Linked DNA regions of Homo sapiens: region 2 is linked to region 1. Evidence: fine-mapped expression QTL. Tissue or cell type: whole blood. Region 1 holds a variant in brackets; the other region holds the start of a gene. All regions are shown on one strand. Distances are from middle to middle.

Evidence for each region. PIP is the estimated chance that this variant, and not a neighbour inherited with it, causes the effect.
Region 2: it holds the start of MORN1, and the variant in region 1 is fine-mapped to the expression of MORN1 in whole blood (TOPMed, PIP above 0.99). The same link has a PIP of 0.9 or more in pancreas and tibial nerve.

Annotation. Positions count from the first base shown.
Region 1 is chr1:2,360,334-2,370,510 of GRCh38, reverse strand. The region is part of intron 8 of MORN1 (MORN repeat containing 1); the gene reads left to right. Among named protein-coding and RNA genes, the nearest start is that of MORN1, 26 kb to the left of the region's middle. The variant T/G (reference allele first, on the strand shown) is at 6,172.
Region 2 is chr1:2,387,490-2,395,675 of GRCh38, reverse strand. It overlaps MORN1 (MORN repeat containing 1), which reads left to right and starts at 4,122. Exons shown (of 14, transcript NM_024848.3): 1 at 4,122-4,218; 2 at 5,680-5,751; 3 at 7,339-7,437; 4 at 8,147-8,186. The coding sequence starts at 4,143. RER1 (retention in endoplasmic reticulum sorting receptor 1) reads right to left here and starts at 3,835. Exons shown (of 7, transcript NM_007033.5): 1 at 3,718-3,835. RefSeq lists silencers at 3,550-3,849, 3,950-4,059, 4,190-4,259, 4,420-4,549, 6,876-7,045 and enhancers at 3,091-3,963, 3,832-4,126, 7,106-7,225, 7,336-7,505, 7,566-7,615.

The DNA.
Region 1 (10,177 bases):
TTTTTCATTTTGCTGAAGTCCAGTTTGTCCATTTTTTCTTTTATGGAGCATAGTTTTGGTACCGTATTTAAGAATTCTTTGCCTAACCCAAGTTTCACAAAGATTTTCTCGTATCCCTCCAGAACTCTTATAGTTCTAGCTCTTACATTTAGGCCTGGGATCCAGTGTGAGTTATTTTTTATGGAAAAGATAAAGTTCTAAATTCATCTTTTCTTCATGGGGATGTTCAATCATCCCAGCATCATTTGTTGAGAACACCGTCCTTTTGCCGTTGAGTTGCCCTGGCACCTTGGTTGAAAATCAGTCAGCCCTAAGAGTCAGGGTTGATGCCTGGACCCCCCGTCTGCTCCACTGATCTGTCTATCCTGATTTATCCTCAGTCTATGCCAGGGCCACGCTATCTGGATTCTTGTTGCTTTTAGCACGTTTTCCAATTGGAGAGTCCTCCAGTTTTGTTTTTCCTTTTCAAAATGATCTTGACTCTGCTGGGACCTTTACATTTCTGTATAAAATTTTAAGATCAGTTTGCCAACTTCTGCAACAACAACAAAAGAAGGCTGCTGGAATGTTGATGGAGGTGCGTTGAACCCCTCTGGAGAGAATGTCCAGATGAAATCTTACCAACACTGAGGCCTCCATCTCATGAACACAGAAGCATCTCTCCATTTAGGTAGAGTTCTTACTTTATCACCAGCGTCTTGTTCCTTTCAGCACACATCTTGCACTTCTTTGTGAAAGCTATTAATACATAATAATGTTATTTATTAGATATTGAATTATAATTATTTTATTAATTATTTCTAAATGCTGATAAATTTGTTTATTCTTTTTATGCCATCATGAGTAGAATTTTCTTAACTTCATTTCAGAGGTTGCCGTAGACTACAATTGATTTTTACATATTGACCTCATTTCCTTTGACTTGCTTTACTCATTTATTAGTTCTACTAGTTTCTTAGAGGATTCCTTAAGATTTTCTCTATATACGATCATATTGTTTATAAATAAATACAGTTTTACTTCTTCCTTTTCAGTCTGAACATGAAAAGCTGCAAGGTTTTTACATTACCTCCAGCAATGAAAGAGGGTTCCAATGGCTTTACACCCTCCTCAGTACTTGCTATTGTCTGTCTTCTTTTTTTTTTTTTTTTTTTTCTGAGACTGAGTTTTGCTCTGTCATCCAGGCTAGAGTGCAGTGGCTCAATCTCGGCTCACTGCAAGCTCCACCTCCTGGGTTCACACCATTCTCCTGCCTCAGCCTCCTGAGTAGCTGAGACTACAGGCGCCTGCCACCATGCCCGGCTAATTTTTTTGTATTTTTTTAGTACAGACAGGGTTTCACCCTGCTAGCCAGGATGATCTCAATCTCCTGACTTCTTGATCCACCACCCTCGGCCTCCCAAAGTGCTGGGATTACAGGCATCAGCCACTGCCCCCCGCCTTTTTTTTTTTTTGAGACTGGGTCTTGCTTTATTGTCCAGGCTGGAGTGCAGTGGTGCAATCTCAGCTCACTGCAACCTCTGCTTCCCGGGCTCAAGCGATTCTCCTGCCTCAGCCTCCCAAGTAGCTGGCACTACAGGCACCCACCACCACGCCCAGCTAATTTTTGTATTTTTAGTAGAGACAGGGTTTCACCATGTTGGCCAGAATGGTCTCCATCTTCTGACCTTGTGATCCACCCGCCTCAGCCTCCCAAAGTGCTGGGATTACAAGCATGAGCCACCGTGCTGGCCTGTCTGTCTTTTGGATGTAGCCATCTTTGTGGGTGTGAAGTGGTGCCTTCTTGTGGTTTGGATTTACATTTCCCTAAAGGCTAATGATGTTGAGCATCTTTTTGTGTGCTATGGGCCATTTGTAGATCTTAGTTGGAGAAATGGAGATAAGAGGCAGAACTTGACTCCAGAAGTGGGGCTCAGACACAAGACCAAATTGAGGACTAGATAAAACAGGGTCAGGGAGGAAGCAGCCTTCCATAAGACACGCCCACCAACGCATCATGCCAGTTTACCATCACCATGGCAACACCTGGGAGTTACCACCCCTTTCCATGGCAATGGCCTGATGACCCAAAAGTTACTGCCGCTTCCCTAGAAATGTCCACATAAACCACCCCTTGATCTGCACGCAGTTAAAAGTGGGTATAAATATGACTGCGACACTGCCCTGAGCTGCTGCTTTCTGCCTGGGGGGCAGCCCCGCTCTGCAGGAGCTGTAGCCCTGCCGCTTCCATACCTCCCATTCACCCTTAAATCCTTCCCTGGCCAAAGCCAAGAACCCTCACAGGCTAAGCCCTGCTGTAGAGCTCACCTGCTCTGCATCAAGATGTCGTAAGAGTTCTTGACATATTCTAGACACAAGCCCCTTATCAGATATCTAATTTGCAAATACATTTTTCCATTTTGTGGGCAGTCAGACAGTTTCTTGCTGGTGTCCTTTGAAACACAAAAGTTTTAAGTTTCGATGAAACCCAATTCTCTCTTTTTCTTTTTGTTGCTTTTGATGTCATATCTATGAAGACTTTGCTTAGTCTGGAGTCATGGAGATTTACTCCTGTGTTTTCTTTTAAGAATTTTATATTTTTAGGCCAGGCACGGTGGCTCACGCCTGTAATCCCAGCACTTTGAGAGGCCAAGGCAGGTGGATCACCTGAGGTCAGGAGTTCAAGACCAGCCTGGCCAACGTGGCAAAACCCTGTCACCACTAAAAAATACGAAAACTAGCTGGGCATAGTGGCGGGTGCCTGTAGTCCCAGCTACTTGAGAGGCTGAGGCAGGGAGAATTGCTTGAACCCAGGAGGCAGAGGTTGCAGTGAGCCGAGATCACGCCACTGCACCCCAGAGCAAGACTCCATCTCAAAAAAAAATGACATATTTTTAGCTCTTACATTTAGGACTGTGAACCGTTCGGTATTAATCTTTTTGTTTGGTGTAAGGAAGGGGTCCAACTGCTGTATATTCCTTTGAATGTGGGTATCTATTTGTCTTAAGATCATTTGTTAAAAAGAGTATTCTTTCCCCAATTATCTTTTTGTTTGTTTTTGTAATTTTTTTTTTTGTAGAGACAGAATCTCACTATGTTGCCCAGGCTGGTCTCAAACTCCCAGGCTCAAGCGATCCTCCCACCTCAGTCTCCCAAAATACTGGGATCACAGGCATAAGCCACCAAGCCTGGCCTTTTTTCTTTTTCTTTTTTTTTTTTTTTTTTGATAGAGCAATGAATTATCTTGTCCTTCAGTTTGCTAAAGTTTTTTTGGGAATTTCTGCATCCCTGTTCGTGAAGGATATTGGCATGAAATTTTCTTTTCTTGTAATGTCTTTGTCTAGTTTTGCTATCAAGGTAATGCTGTCCTCATAGAATGAGTGAATTGGGAAAAATTCTCTCTTCAATTTTCGGGAAGAGTTTGTGTGCACTTGAGAAGAATGTGAATTTTGTTGTGTACAATATTTTATAAATCAGGTCAATTTTGTTGATATTATTGTTTTTCTACGTATTTTTCTATGTATTTTTCTATGTGTTTTTCTATGTATTTTTCTATGTATTTTTCTATGTATTTTGTTGATATTATTGATATTCTGTGTATGTATGTATACTATGTCCTTGCTGATTTTCTGTCTGCTTGTTTTATCAGTTATTGAGAGTAGCATATTGAAATATCTGACTATGATAGATTTGCCTTGCTGGGTGCAGTGCCTCATACCTGTCATCCTAGCATTTTGAGAGGCTGAGGCGAGCACATCACTTGAAGTCAGGAGTTTGAGACCAGCCTGGCCAACATGGTGAAGCCCCATCTCTACTAAAATCTCTACTAAAAATACAAAAATTAGCCAGGCATGGTGGTTCACACCTGTAATCCCAGCTACTTGGGAGGCTGAGGCAGGAGAATTGCTTGAACCTGGGAGGCGGAGGTTGCAGTGAGCTGAGATCGCACCACTGTACTACAGCCTGGGTGACAGAGCAAGATCCTGTCTCAAAACAAGCAAACAAACAAAAGATTTGCCTATTTCTGCTTTTATTTTTTTTTTAATTTTATTATTATTATACTTAAAGTTTTAGGTACCTGTGCACAATGTGCAGGTTAGTTACATATGTATACATGTGCCATGTTGGTGTACTGCAACCATTAACTGGTCATTTAGCATTAAGTATATCTCCTAAAGCTATCCCTCCCACCTCCCCCCACCCCACAACAGTCCCCAGAGTGTGATGTTCCCCTTCCTGTGTCCATGTGTTCTCATTGTTCAATTCCCACCTATGAGTGAGAATATGCGGTGTTTGGTTTTTTGTTCTTGCGATAGTTTACTGAGAATGATGATTTCGAATTTCATCCATGTCCCTACAAAGGACACGAACTCATCATTTTTTATGGCTGCATAGTATTCCATGGTGTATATGTGCCACATTTTCTTAATCCAGTCTATCATTGTTGGACATTTGGGTTGGTTCCAAGTCTTTGCTATTGTGAATAGTGCCGCAATAAACATACGTGTGCATGTGTCTTTATAGCAGCATGATTTATAGTCCTTTGGGTATATACCCAGTAATGGGATGGCTGGGTCAAATGGTATTTCTAGTTCTAGATCCCTGAGGAATCGCCACACTGACTTCCACAATGGTTGAACTAGTTTACAGTCCCACCAACAGTGTAAAAGTGTTCCTATTTCTCCACATCCTCTCCAGCACCTGTTGTTTCCTGACTTTTTAATGATTGCCATTCTAACTGGTTTGAGATGGTATCTCATTGTGGTTTTGATTTGCATTTCTCTGATAGCCAGTGATGGTAAGCATTTCTTCATGTGTTTTTTGGCTGCCTATGACAAACCCACAGCCAATATCATACTGAATGGGCAAAAACTGGAAGCATTCCCTTTGAAAACTGGCACAAGACAGGGATGCCCTCTCTCACCACTCCTATTCAACATAGTGTTGGAAGTTCTGGCCAGGGCAATTAGGCAGGAGAAGGAAATAAAGGGTATTCAGTTAGGAAAAGAGGAAGTCAAATTGTCCCTGTTTGCAGATGACATGATTGTATATCTAGAAAACCCCATTGTCTCAGCCCAAAATCTCCTTAAGCTGATAAGCAACTTCAGCAAAGTCTCAGGATACAAAATCAATGTACAAAAATCACAAACATTCTTATACACCAATAACAGACAAACAGCCAAATCATGAGTGAACTCCCATTCACAATTGCTTCAAAGAGAATAAAATACCTAGGAATCCAACTTACAAGGGACGTGAAGGACCTCTTCAAGGAGAACTACAAACCACTGCTCAGTGAAATAAAAGAGGATACAAACAAATGGAAGAACATTCCATGCTCATGGGTAGGAAGAATCAATATCGTGAAAATGGCCATACTGCCCAAGGTAATTTATAGATTCAATGCCATCCCCATCAAGCTACCAATGACTTTCTTCACAGAATTGGAAAAAACTACTTTAAAGTTCATATGGCACCAAAAAAGAGCCTGCATCACCAAGTCAATCCTAAGCCAAAAGAACAAAGCTGGAGGTATCATGCTACCTGACTTCAAACTATACTACAAGGCTACAGTAACCAAAACAGCATGGTACTGGTACCAAAACAGAAATATAGATCAATGGAACAGAGCAGAGCCCTCAGAAATAACGCTGCGTATCTACAACTATCTGATCTTTGACAAACCTGAGAAAAACAAGCAATGGGGAAAGGATTCCCTATTTAATAAATGGTGCTGGGAAAACTGGCTAGCCATATGTAGAAAGCTGAAACTAGATCCCTTCCTTACACCTTATACAAAAATTAATTCAAGATGGATTAAAGATTTAAACGTTAGACCTAAAACCATAAAAACCCTAGAAGAAAACCTAGGCTTTACCATTCAGGACATAGGCATGGGCAAGGACTTCATGTCTAAAACACCGAAAGCAATGGCAACAAAAGCCAAAATTGACAAATGGGATCTAATTAAACTAAAGAGCTTCTGCACAGCAAAAGAGACTACCATCAGAGTGAACAGGCAACCCACAAAATGGGAGAAAATTTTTGCAACCTACTCATCTGACAAAGGGCTAATATCCAGAATCTACAATGAACTCAAATTTACAAGAAAAAAACAACCCCATCAAAAAGTGGGCAAAGGACATGAACAGACACTTCTCAAAAGAAGACATTTATGCACCAAAAAACACA[T/G]GAAAAAATGTTCTGCTTTTCTTTCTTTCAATTTTTGGTTCATGTATTTTGGGGCTCTGTTATTGGGGGCATACACATTTAGGATTTTTATGTAGTTTAATCAGTTGATCCCTTATCACTGTGAAATTACTTTCTTTATCCCTAGTAACTGCCCTTACTCTTACATCTACTTTCTGTGATATTAATATGGTCACTTTTTATTTCTTTTGACTAGCATTAGCATGGTGTAGCTCTATCCATCCTTTTACTTTTAACCTGCCTATGTTTTTAAAGTGTACTTTTTGTAGACAGCATATCGTCGTCTTGCTTTTTATCCAGTCTAACAATCTCTGCCTTTTAACTGAACTGTTTATACCATTCACATTTAATATGGTTATTGACACAGTAGGATTAAATTTACCATTTTACTATTTTTTAATTTGCCCCAGCTGTTTGTTTCCCCTCTATATCTATTTTTATCTTTTTTGAATTGGGCATTTTTTATGATTCCATTTTATCATCTCTGATTTTTTTTATATATATATATATTTTTTTGTTTGTTTGTTTGTTTGTTTTTCTAACTGATTTTTTCTTTTTTGAGACAAGGTCTCACTGTCACCCAGGCTGAAGTACAGTAGTGAAATCATAGCTCACTGCAGCCTTGACCTCCTGGGCTCAAGTAATCCTCCTGCCTCAGCCTCCTGAGTAGCTGGGACTATAGGTGCACACCACCACGCCTGGTTAATTTAAAAAAATTTTTTTTTCTTTTAGAGATGAGGTCTCACTCTGTTGCCCAGGCTGCTCTTAAACTCCTGGTCTCAAGCAATCTGCCCACCTGGGCCTCCCAAAGTGCTGGGATTACAGGTGTGAGCCACCACGCCTGGCCCTCTGTTAATGTATTAATTATAACTCTTTGTTTTGTTATTTGAGGGATTACTTTAGGGTTTTACAACTCGTTAAGTAAAAGGGGATCATCATAAATGTATTGGAGGAGGAAGGGTTGGTCTTGCTGTGTCAGGGGTAGCAGAGGTACATCTTGACTTACCACAGTTTCTTTCTTTCTTTTTTATTTTATTCTTTACTCCTGGCAAGCTGTGACACAGTTATTTTCAAGAGATGTAATATACTACTTCATGCGTAAGAACTGTACAATTATATACCTTTTTTGCCAGTCCCAATTTTATGCAGTTGTTTTCATACATTTTATGTTCATATATGTAATAAAATTAATAATACGTTGTTATTTTTATTTAAATGACCACTTAGGTTTTAATGTGTACTTAATAAACAGTAAGCAGTCTCTTCTGTTGACCCACATTGCTGTGGCTTCTGGTTCTTCTCGCTTCTTCCTGTGGGTCCATATTTCCATCTGCTCTCATTTTCCTCTGCCTGAAGGACTTAATCTTTAACATTTCTTGTAGTACAGGTTTGCTAGTGATGAATTCTTTCCGCTTTTGTATGTCTGGAAACATCTTGATTTTAGTTTCTTTTTTTTTTGAGATGGAGTTCTGCTCTGTCACCCAGGCTGGAGTGCAATGGCGCGATCTCGGCTCACTGCAACCTCTGCCTCCCAGGTTCAAGCAATTCTCCTGCCTCAGCCTCCCAAGTAGCTGGGATTACAGGCGCCCGCCACCACACCCAGCTAATTTTTTTTGTATTTTTAGTAGAGACAGGGTTTGGCCATGTAGGCCAGATTGGTCTCAAACTCCTGACCTCAGGTGTTTTCATTAAATTTGGAAATTTTTCAACCATTATTTCTTCCAGTAATCTTTCTGGCACAGCCTCTCCCATGTGTTACCCATGATTGGGCTACTTGAGGTTGTCCCACTGTTTGCTGGTTCCCTTCCTTTCTTCCTTCTGTTTTTTCTTTTTAACTCTTTTTTTCCCTCGATGGTCCACTTGGGATGGCTTCTATAGCTGTACAGTTGACCCTTGAACAAAAACAGGTTTGAACTGTGGGATCCACTCATACACAGGTTTTCCTCTGCCTTGGCCACCCCAAAAACAGCAAGACCAACCCCTCTTCTTCCTCCTCCTCCTCAGTGTATTCAATGTGAAGACAGCAAGGATGATCTTTGTGATAATCCACTTCCACTTAATGAATAGTAAATATGTTTTTTGTTTTTTATTTTGAGTTGTCTCGCTCTGTCGCCCAGGCTGGAGTGCAGTGGCATGATCAGAGCTCATTGCAACCTCCACCTCCCGGGTTCAAGTGATTCTCCTGCCTCAGCCTCCCGAGTAGCTGGGACTACAGGCACCCGCCACCACGCCCGGCTGATATTTGTATTTTTAGTAGAGACGGGGTTTCACCATATTGGCCAGGGCGGTCTCAAACTCCTGACCTTGTGATCCGCCTGCCTCAGCCTCCCAAGGTGCTGGGATTACAGGCGTGAGCCACTGTGCCCAGACTTGTTTTCTTTTACTATGATTTTCTTAATAACATTTTCTTTTTTCTAGCTTACTTTATTATAAGAATACAGTGTTTAATAGATATAACATACACAATATGTGTTAATCAACAGTTTCTGTTATCAGTAAGGCTTCTGGTCAACAGTGTGCTATTAAAGCTGTGGGGAGTCGGAATTGACATGTGGATGTTCAGCCGCATGGAGGGTCAGCGGCCCTCATCCCCACGTTGGCCAAGGGTCAACTGCATTTCCAGGTTCATAAATCTTTTCTTCTGCGATGTTTAACCTGTTGTGAATCACATCCAGCATATTTTTTATCTCATACATTATAATTTTCATCTCCAGAAGTTTGACTTTGTTCTTTTTTCTTATTTATTTATTTATTTGTTAATTTTTTGAGACAGTCTCACTCTGTCTCCCAGGCTGGAGTGCAGTAGTACAATCTCGGCTCACTGCAACCTCCACCTCCCAGGTTCAAATGATTCTCCTGCCTCAGCCTCCCAAGTAGCTGGGATGACAGACACGTGCCACCACACCCAGCTAATTTTTTGTATTTTTAGTAGAGACGGGGTTTTGACATGTTGGCCAGGCTGGTCTCAAACTCCTGACCTCAGGTGATCTGCCAACCTTGGCCTCCCAAAGTGCTGGGATTACGGGTGTGAGTCACTGCGCCCGGCTCTTTGTTCTTGTTTATATCTTCTGTGTGTCTATTTAACTTTGGAACATGGAATACAGTTATGATCACCATGCTTGAATGTCCTCTACTGCTGATTCTAACATCCGTGTCAGTTTTGGACCGGTTTCAGTAGATGGATTTTTCTCCTTGTTATGGGCCATACTTTCCTGCATTCTTTGCATGCCTCATAATCTTTGATTGGATGCCAGACATTGTAAATTTTACCTTGTTGGGTATTGGATATTTTTGTATTCCTATAAATATTCTTGAGCTTTGTTCTGGGGCACAGTTCAGTGACTTGGAGACAGTTTAATCCTCTTGGGTCTTGCTTTTATGATTTGTTAGACAGGTCTGCTGGAGACCCGTCTGCCTCACACCAATGGTTCCCCATGACTGTGGCAAGACCCTTCTGAAAGCTTGCCCCCGCTTCCTGTGACCTCTGAGTTTTTCCAGCCTGGCTGAGGAGAACAGGCACCATGCCCAGTCCTGTGTGAGGCCCAGGTCCTGGTCCCTCTTAATTCTTCAGACGGTTCTTCCCCAGCCTCGTGGAGTTTTGTCCCAGGTGTGCTGAATGGTGCTCTGCTGAACACTCCAGGGCCTCCTGCGGGCTGCAGGGTCCTCCCTCTACTCAGGGTCCTCCCTCTACTCAGGGTCCTCTCTCTCCTCTTCGCTGCTCTGCCCTTTGAATTTTAAAACTCTGACTGTGTGCCTTGTTCCCCAGATTCTCTGCTCATTTTCCTCAACTGAGGGGTTTGTTGGGCTCTGCCTCAGTTTCCCCTCTCTGCAGCTCATCCTGCACGTTCTTTTAAGGCAGCAGCCAGGGCAATTATAGAGTCCACGCCGTTTGTTTCCTTCTTTCAAGGATCTGTCCTGAGTTGCCTGGTGTCCGGGATCCTGATATCAATTTCATTGCACTTTGTCGGCTTTCTTGGTTGTTGGAACC
Region 2 (8,186 bases), 26 kb before region 1:
TTGTCCATATACCATTTGTGTTTTTACCATGAATTGTTCGGGAAAAAGTAGCAGGTACACAGGCTTCCCTGGAGAGGAAGGGCAGCGTGAGACGCATGGGCCCAGGAGCACAGGCCGCATTTTCATTCCCACACTGGCACCTCAGTCACCTGCGTGGGCGGGACTGTCCACCCCACTGGCCCCAGGAGCAGCCTTGCTGGCCATGGGGTCCACTGGCTGGTCCATGGCACGTGGCACTGCATGTCCTCCCTCCAAGGACCGCACCCTCTGTGGATCCCTCAGGGTTCCCCCGCCCAGGCACCTTGTCTGCTCCACGCCCTGTCCTGGGTCTCTGGTCTGGCAGGAGCAGGAGGGATCCTGTCCTCTCAGGGCCAGGTCCTCCACCCCATGAACAGGAAAATGTTATCTACAACTCTCAGGTAGTCCATCCATCTGCGTCCCAGTTTCTTATCTGGCAAGCGGAGGTAACGTATCTGCTCCTATTTCAACACTGCTGTGATGCCATGAGGAATTCACCTGAGAACCCAGGTGCCAGAGGTCACATTGTTCACCCACTTAATTCCCAGATGCTCAAGTGAAGGGCATCATGACCCCCATTTCACCAAGTCTCAAACAGTGGAAGCCACGTGTCCAAGGTCCTGCCACAGCCCTGCTTCTGGGCAGGCCAAGCCAAGCCTGACTGCCACCTGGCTCCTCAGCTGAGCACGCCGCCACCCCACTCCTGAGAGGAGACGGCGTCAGGACCTGCCGCTCTTCGGTAAAGCACAGCTCAGTACCCAGGGCCTGCCGGTTGTCATTCCTACTTTAAAGATGAGAGGCCTCCTGGCCCCTGAGCTAGAGAAGACGCCAGGGGTGACGTTCACCTCCCCCACCACCCCCCATCTGCTCCCTCGGCAGGGCAGTGAGGAGAAACAGACTCTGGTCTCAAGTTTGGCTTAAAGTCCCACCTGTGCTAAGCGGCTGTGAGGCCTTCAGCAAACCCTCTGAGCACGCAGCCAGCCTCAGTTTCCTCATCTGTAAAATGAGGCTCTAAGAAATACCAGACATGAAAGCAAAGACATCATTCCTCAGCAACAGTTGGGGTCAGTCTTATTGTTCTCATTTACAGATAAGAAAACTGAAGCTCACAAAGACTAAAGAGTTGCCCTGGCCCATCAGCATGTTCGCAGTGGGCAGGAGCCAGAACCTGCACCTTCCTGAAACCAACGCTTTTCCAGTCCCATCCTCACTGTGAGCACTGGGGAAATCTTCCCTTCAGGTGGAAGGCAACAGGTGGCCAGACGCAATCCCGCCCTCAAGTGCCTTGGCTCTCCCATCACAACTGATGCGCTGAAGTGATCCAGGCAGCTCCCTCCACATCATCAAGTCTGTGCAGAATGTGGCTCCATGACACCGTTCCTGGATCCTCTGTGCAGAGTGCCAGGCTGCTCAAGGAGACCGAGGGGCCCTTTGGTCTCGCGGAGCCGTGTAAACCAGACACAGAGGAGGAGCACCTTTACTCTCCACTGAAAGAACTCCATATTTAAATAGAGGCTACACTAAAATGTGTCACCTGGAATGGCCACCCTATTTAGGCCAAAGCCAGGCCATCTGAAAGCCACCCGTCACATTGTTCGTCCTATAGCTCCTTGTAAGTTTCCCCGTTTTACTCAGACTGTTTCCCATTAAAGCACTTTTACTGGACTGGAGGTGATGAGAGTAATGTCAGGGAGAAAATACCCAGCTCTCCCGCCAAAGGGTGTTCTCTAGGCAAAGCTCAGAACTTCTCACTCTCCAACTGAACATGTAGAAAACCTACTCAAAACGCCATCAGCCAATCCTGCTTGTCTGACACACACAACACGTATACCAAACACACACGTATACCAAACACAGCTTGCACCCTGACTGAACGCATTGCCAGGAATAGCCTGAGGCAGGGCGGCAGGAGCAAGAACGTGAACTTTGGACTCCAACAGCCTGCTTTCAGATCCTGGCTCTACCACTCTCTGCCAGTGTGACTAGGACAGGCTATTCCAGGATGCCTCAGGTTCCAGTCTGTGAAATGGGACAACAGCACCTCTCATGCCTTCTCCACAAGGCTCTCGTGAGGAATCAGTGGGCAGCCCGTGGAGCACCCTTGGAGCCGGGCAAGGCAGTGCCAGCCCTGTTCCTGGATCAGGGCCAGCCCTCACACCAGCTGCCCCCTCTGCAGTCCTCTTCTCTGCTCAGTTTGAAGCCCACCTCCTCTTCACAGGCCTCCGTTACCGCCCACACTGACCCCCAGTCCCTTACATCACATCACCCTATTTTTATTTTGTGTACAACTGTTTCCTGATACCTTTCTGGTTTACTTCTCAATTTTCTCCTGCTAGAATGAAGCTCCTTGAGGGGTCCCTTGTCTGGTTCGGGGCTGGGCCCTGCCACCTGGAAGTCCATTACATAGTAGACAGCCCATCAATTACCTGTTGAAGGTGACTGCTTTATGCCTGGTCACAAACAAAACAGAAAGGGAGATAAAACCAGTCCAAGCAGAGACCATGAGGACGTGCCAGAAAGTGTAAGACTCTCTATGTGCCTTGTTCCAGGCCCGTCACATTCATCCACATCTGTGGTCCATCACTCTGCACGTGGAAAGGATGAAGTCCTCTGCCTGGCGTCCGGGAGCATTGACAGTCTGGCTCCCACCTTTCTCTTCACGTCCCCATCCCCAATTCCTCCGGGACTAAGAAAGCCCCCGGCTGCCGTGCACCAAGCTTCACGCCTCTGGTGTTGTTCAGTCCTCTGAAATGCCCTCCCAGACCCCGTCTCTTCCTCCTTCCCAAGGCCACATTCCAGCCTGGGCTCCCCGCTCCTCTGGGCCTGACCATCTTATATCTCCACCTGGCTCTGACACACTGTTACCGCCGTCGCCGTCACCTCAGGCATACGGCAGAAGCCATGTGAGAGTCTGAATTACTGAGAACCCTTTATCCACTTACGGGGATAACTGCATCTTCCTGGGAAATGTCAACTCAACTAAAAATAAAGTGCTTCCAGGACTAGCGGCCAGTCTCTACTCTTCATAAAGGGAAAAGGGCAAAAGCCCACTGAAGGTACTTAGGCTGAAAGCAGCCCTCTGTGCTGTGAGACACCTGGCAGAGAAACGAACGATACCTTTATCAGTGGGGCCACAGACCAGTACTAAGTCAGCCTGGAGAATTTATGATTTTATTGCCTATTTAGAATACGATCAAAACCGATGTAACTAGTTTCCCTTCAGCCCGTCAGTAACGCCTTCACCCCAGAGCTTAACACTAAATCCTACAGATAAGCGCTGACCTGGACGCAGGATGGGGACAGGGCACATTACTCTGGAATACAGCCCAACTCGCAGCGCTGTGGGGGCCGCGACTGCCCGCTTCCCCCAGATGCCAAGCAGGGGATGCGGACGAGATGCGGCCCGGGTGGCTCGAGGGCTGCAGCCCCCGCCCGGCCCCTCTCCCGCTCCCCCGACCCTCGCAGGCCCCAGGGCTCCGCCGCACCCCCCAGCACCCCGTCCCGGGCCCGACCCCGAGGCGCGACCCGTACCCCTCAGGGCCGCGGGTCGGGAACACGGTCCCCGCGGCCACCCGGGCCCCGACGGCCCTCCCCGCCCGGCCCTCAGCGCGGCCCCGCCCGCCCGCGGCCTTGACAGCCCGGAAGAAGCGGAGGCGGCGCTGCCCGGCCGTTCCCGCGCCACGCAGCCCTTCCTGGCACCTCGCAGCTCCGCTACGGCCGAGCCGCGGTCTCCCTCACGGCCGCGGGAAGGAGGACGGCGGGGCACGGGCGGCCGCAGGCGCTGCGCTCCGGCTCCGGGAAGCTGCAGCGAGCACTTCCGCTCCGTCCTCCGCGGCGCCGCCTCCAGGGCCCCCAAGATGGCGCGAGGGCGGGGCCAAGGGCTCCAACCATTTCCGCTTCCGGCGCAGACGCGCAGGCCGTTGGCGGGCGGGCCTCCCGGCGGAAGAGACGACAGCGGCGGAAACGCGCACAGGCGCAGCTGCGTCCTCTGGCTCCGGGCCCGGCTAGCTTCGCTCCAGAGATTGCGCGGGCTCAGGGACTAGGCCCGTGGCCACACCCCCCCTTGCGACAAAGACCAATGGAAGCGGGCGTTGCTGGTCGCTAAGAGAACCCTCGGCGGCAAGATGGCAGCGGCGGGCGAGGGCACCCCGAGCTCCCGCGGGCCGCGTCGGGACCCGCCTAGGCGGCCGCCCCGGAACGGTAACGACTGCGGGCCACGGGACAGGTCGCTGGCTGCCCTGGGCTCCATTCAGGGTGCGATCGCTCTACGCCCTCGACCCCCAAATGCTCACCTCGGAAAGTAGAGGTCCAGGTGCCGCGGCGGAGCCAGGGCCGCCCCCGCGTCCCCCACTCCCACAGGACTCGCCGTGCGCCTCGGGCTCGGCTCGCACCCTTCCCCGAGCCCTCCTCCCGCAGCAGGCCAAGCCCTGCAGGGGGTCGCCCCCCGCGGGCTCCTAGCCGGGAAGACCGGGTTCCGGCCGCAGCCTCACAGCCAGCGGGACCTGGGGTTGCCATGGGGATCCCGAAGCCCAGGACTTGGGGCGAGGGCAGGCGCAGGAGCAGCACCAAGCCTCCTGACTTCCTGGCCGGTGCTGTCCAGAAACGCTAGGACGCGTTTCAAAAGCAGTTTTTGCCTGTACTTCCAGCACTTTGGGAGGCCGAGGCGGGTGGATCACCTGAGGTCAGGAGTTCGAGACCAGTGTGGCCAACATGGCGAAACCCGGTCTCTACTAAAAAATACAAAAATTGGCCCGGGGTGGTGCCTCCTGTAGTTCCAGCTACTCGGGAGGCTGAGGCAGGAGAATCGCTTGAACCCAGGAAGCGGAGGTTGCAGAGAGCCGAGATCGCGCCGCTGCACCCCAGCCTGGGCGACAGAGCAAGACTCAGTCTCAAAAAAAAAAAAAAGAGCAGGTTTTGATAGGAACTGTTTCTAGAATCAAATAAACGGGTCTGGAATGAACTCAGAGCTAACACTACTATCTTCAGGTAGAACCTGACCCTGATTTGGGACAGATACAGTAGCCTGTAGTAACCCCCTGCCCTCCTCCCCGACATTTTCCCATAAACCCTGCCCACAAAATGTGCCTGAGGAGCTGGTAGGGAGGGAGCCCTGCCCATTCCTGGAACTGCAGGAGTTGGCGGGTGGCACACCCAGCAACTAGGAGGAGATGAAGCCGGCCAGGCCATCCTTGGGTATGAGTGTGGATTTTCTCCCCAGCGATAGGAGGCCACTGAAGGGCCACGGCAGGGGATGGGAGAGTCTGCTCCTCCCCTGTGTGCCTCACTGACACTGCCGCTCTGCCTTCCCCTGGCTCACTCATCTCCTGCAACAAGGCTCCCAACCTGCTCCTCACCACCTCCCGAGCACCTCTGGTCTCTCAAGGACCTGCAGTTGTTTCAAGCCAGCCCTCCTCTTACTGGGCCTGTCTTCTCTGCACCAAGTAGGTCCTCATCCTTGTCACATAAACAAATGAGCAAATGAATGGCCCAACAGTCGACAGGAGAGCTCATGAGCCCCACAGGTCGCCTCTGGTCTGCTGAAGGTGACGTGTACCAACCCCTTGAAGGCCCTCAAGGGAGCTGCACTCCCTCCTTCAGCACTGGAGAGCATCCCTCATCTCTGTGTCTGTGCTTACCTGTGTGTGTCTTCTCAATACTCAGGTTATGGTGTCTACGTATACCCAAATTCCTTCTTTCGATATGAAGGAGAATGGAAAGCAGGGAGGAAGCACGGTGAGAAGCATCTGTGGTCTCTTCTTGCAGCTGCTGCCCCACAGCTGACGAAACCAGTTTCTCCCCGGGAGGTTGGGTGGGCAAGTGGCATTTCCTGTAGCTTTCGAGCCCATTGTACCCTGGTGCTTCCCTGGCTGCTCAGGGTAAGGCTGGATGGGCAGGGGAAACAGAGGCCTGGGAGACCCCCCTGGAGGGCCACCTTTAGCAAAGGAAGCTGCGACTTTGAAATTCTCCCTAGAGGTTGAGTTCATTTGTCTTTTCCAGACTGAAAACTGGCTTTATGGTTTATTTCCTATTATAAAGAGAACCTACTCTTGTAGTAAATCCAAGTAATAGAAGAAAGAAAGTGTAAAGTCAAGCCAAGCGCAGTGGCTCACGCCTGTAATCCCAGTACTTTGGGAGGCCAAGGTGGGCGGATCACTTGAGGTCAGGAGTTCCAGAACAGCCTGACCAGCATGCTGAAACCCTGACCCTACTAAAAAGACAATAATAGCTGGTTGTGGTAAGGCACACCTGTAATCCTAGCTACTTGGCAGGCTGAGCCAGGAGAATCCCTTGAACACAGGAGGCAGAGGTTGCAGTCAGCTGAGATTGTGCCACTGCACTCCAGCCTGGGTGACAGACTGAGACTCCGTCTCAAAACAGAACAAAAAAAGCAAGTATAAAGTCGATAACACCTGTACCCCCACCAACCCCAGGCAAGTGCCGTGAACCTTTGGTGGTGTGGACGTTCCCGCCACTGTACTCCTCTCACGCAGTTTTGTATCTGCTCTCTGCCAGTTTTGTTTCTTTTTTCTTTTTTTTTTTTTTTGGAGACAGAGTTTTGCTCTTGTTGCCCAGGCTGGAGTGCAATGCTGCCATCTCGGCTCACTGCAACCTCCGGCTCCCAGGTTCAAGTGATTCTCCTGCCTCAGCCTCATGAGTAGCTGGGATTACAGGCACCTGCCACCACGCCCAGCTAATTTTTGTATTTTTAGTAGAGATGCAGTTTTGCCATGTTGGCCTGGCTGGTCTCGAACTCCTGACCTCAGGTGATCTGCCCACCTCAACCTCCCAAAGTGCTGAGATTACAGGCATGAGCCACTGCGCCCAGCCACTCTGCCTAGTTTTCTTCTCTCTCTCTCTTTTTTTTTTTTTTTTTTTTTTTTTGAGACAGTCTTGCTCTGTCGCCCAGGCTGGAGTGCAGTGATGCAATCATGGCTCTCTGCAGCCTCAACCTCCTGACTCAAGGGATCCTCCCACCTCAGCCTCCTGAGCAGCTGGACCCACAAACACGTACCACCACACCTGGCTAATTTTTAAAATTTTGTGTAGAGACGGGGTCTCTCCGTGTTGCTCAGGCTGGCTGCCTGCACTTCGATTCCTGTGCTTGTTCTGGCTGAAGGCGCCGGCCGCTCAAGCGTGTTTCGGCAGATATTTTTGAGAACATTTTTTTATTTTTAAATACATGTATAGCATGAGTGATGGAGCCAAACACAAGTTTTGAAGCCAAGCTCTTGGTTCTGAGAAACAGGCCCAACACTGCACAGTGTCATTCGCAGTCAACCCAACCACTGTCTGAGTTCACGTGACGATTTCTCCTGCCAGGTCACGGGAAGTTGTTATTTAAAGATGGCAGTTATTACGAAGGGGCGTTTGTGGACGGAGAGATCACGGGAGAAGGCCGCCGGCACTGGGCCTGGTCAGGTGAGCTCTAGCTGGGATGGCACATTCACTCCTTTCTCATAACCCATCGGGCTCAGTTGGTCCGCCGAGTCTAGATGCAGAAGGCGTGACGTGTAGACGGGAAGCTTTGTGCCGTGAGAGGCCTGGCCTACCGAGAAGCCCTGGGGACCTGACTGAGGCTCTGTGGTCACCGCTGAGAGCAACTCAGGCTTCCGGAGACACTTTTCTAGAATAAAGATTTATCTGTCCCAAGTTACACTATTTCTTTTTTATTTAAAGCTATTTCAGCCACATTGTATCCCTAGATGGGAAACCAGCTCTGGGGATTCGTTGCCGGGAGCTGTGTGTCCAGGAACCTCAGACCCTCACGCCAGAGGGGTCGGTGGGTTCTCAGTGGAGGTGTTTTCTCTCAGGCTTGGCTTTCAGTTTTTAAAGAGCCAGGGAAAAACCTCACCCTTCACCCTGCAAACCGACCAGAGGGTCCTTTGCCCTCGGGATAGATGCCCAAAGAGAGTGTCTGCCTGGGGCTGTCTGCATGCCCAGCTGTTGGGGAGACCAGACCTGCTTACCATGTTTTCCCTCATGAAGCAGACTGAGTAGTATGATGGAGGCAGGGACGTCCATTCTGGAATGGTTCCTGCGTGTCATGGGCCAGGGACAGAGGAGAGCCGACTGGGGCCGCAGCCCTGAACTGAACCTCCTGTCTCCCCTCCTCCTTGTCCACATGCAGGAGACACCTTCTCTGGACAGTTTGTTCTGGGAGAGCCTCA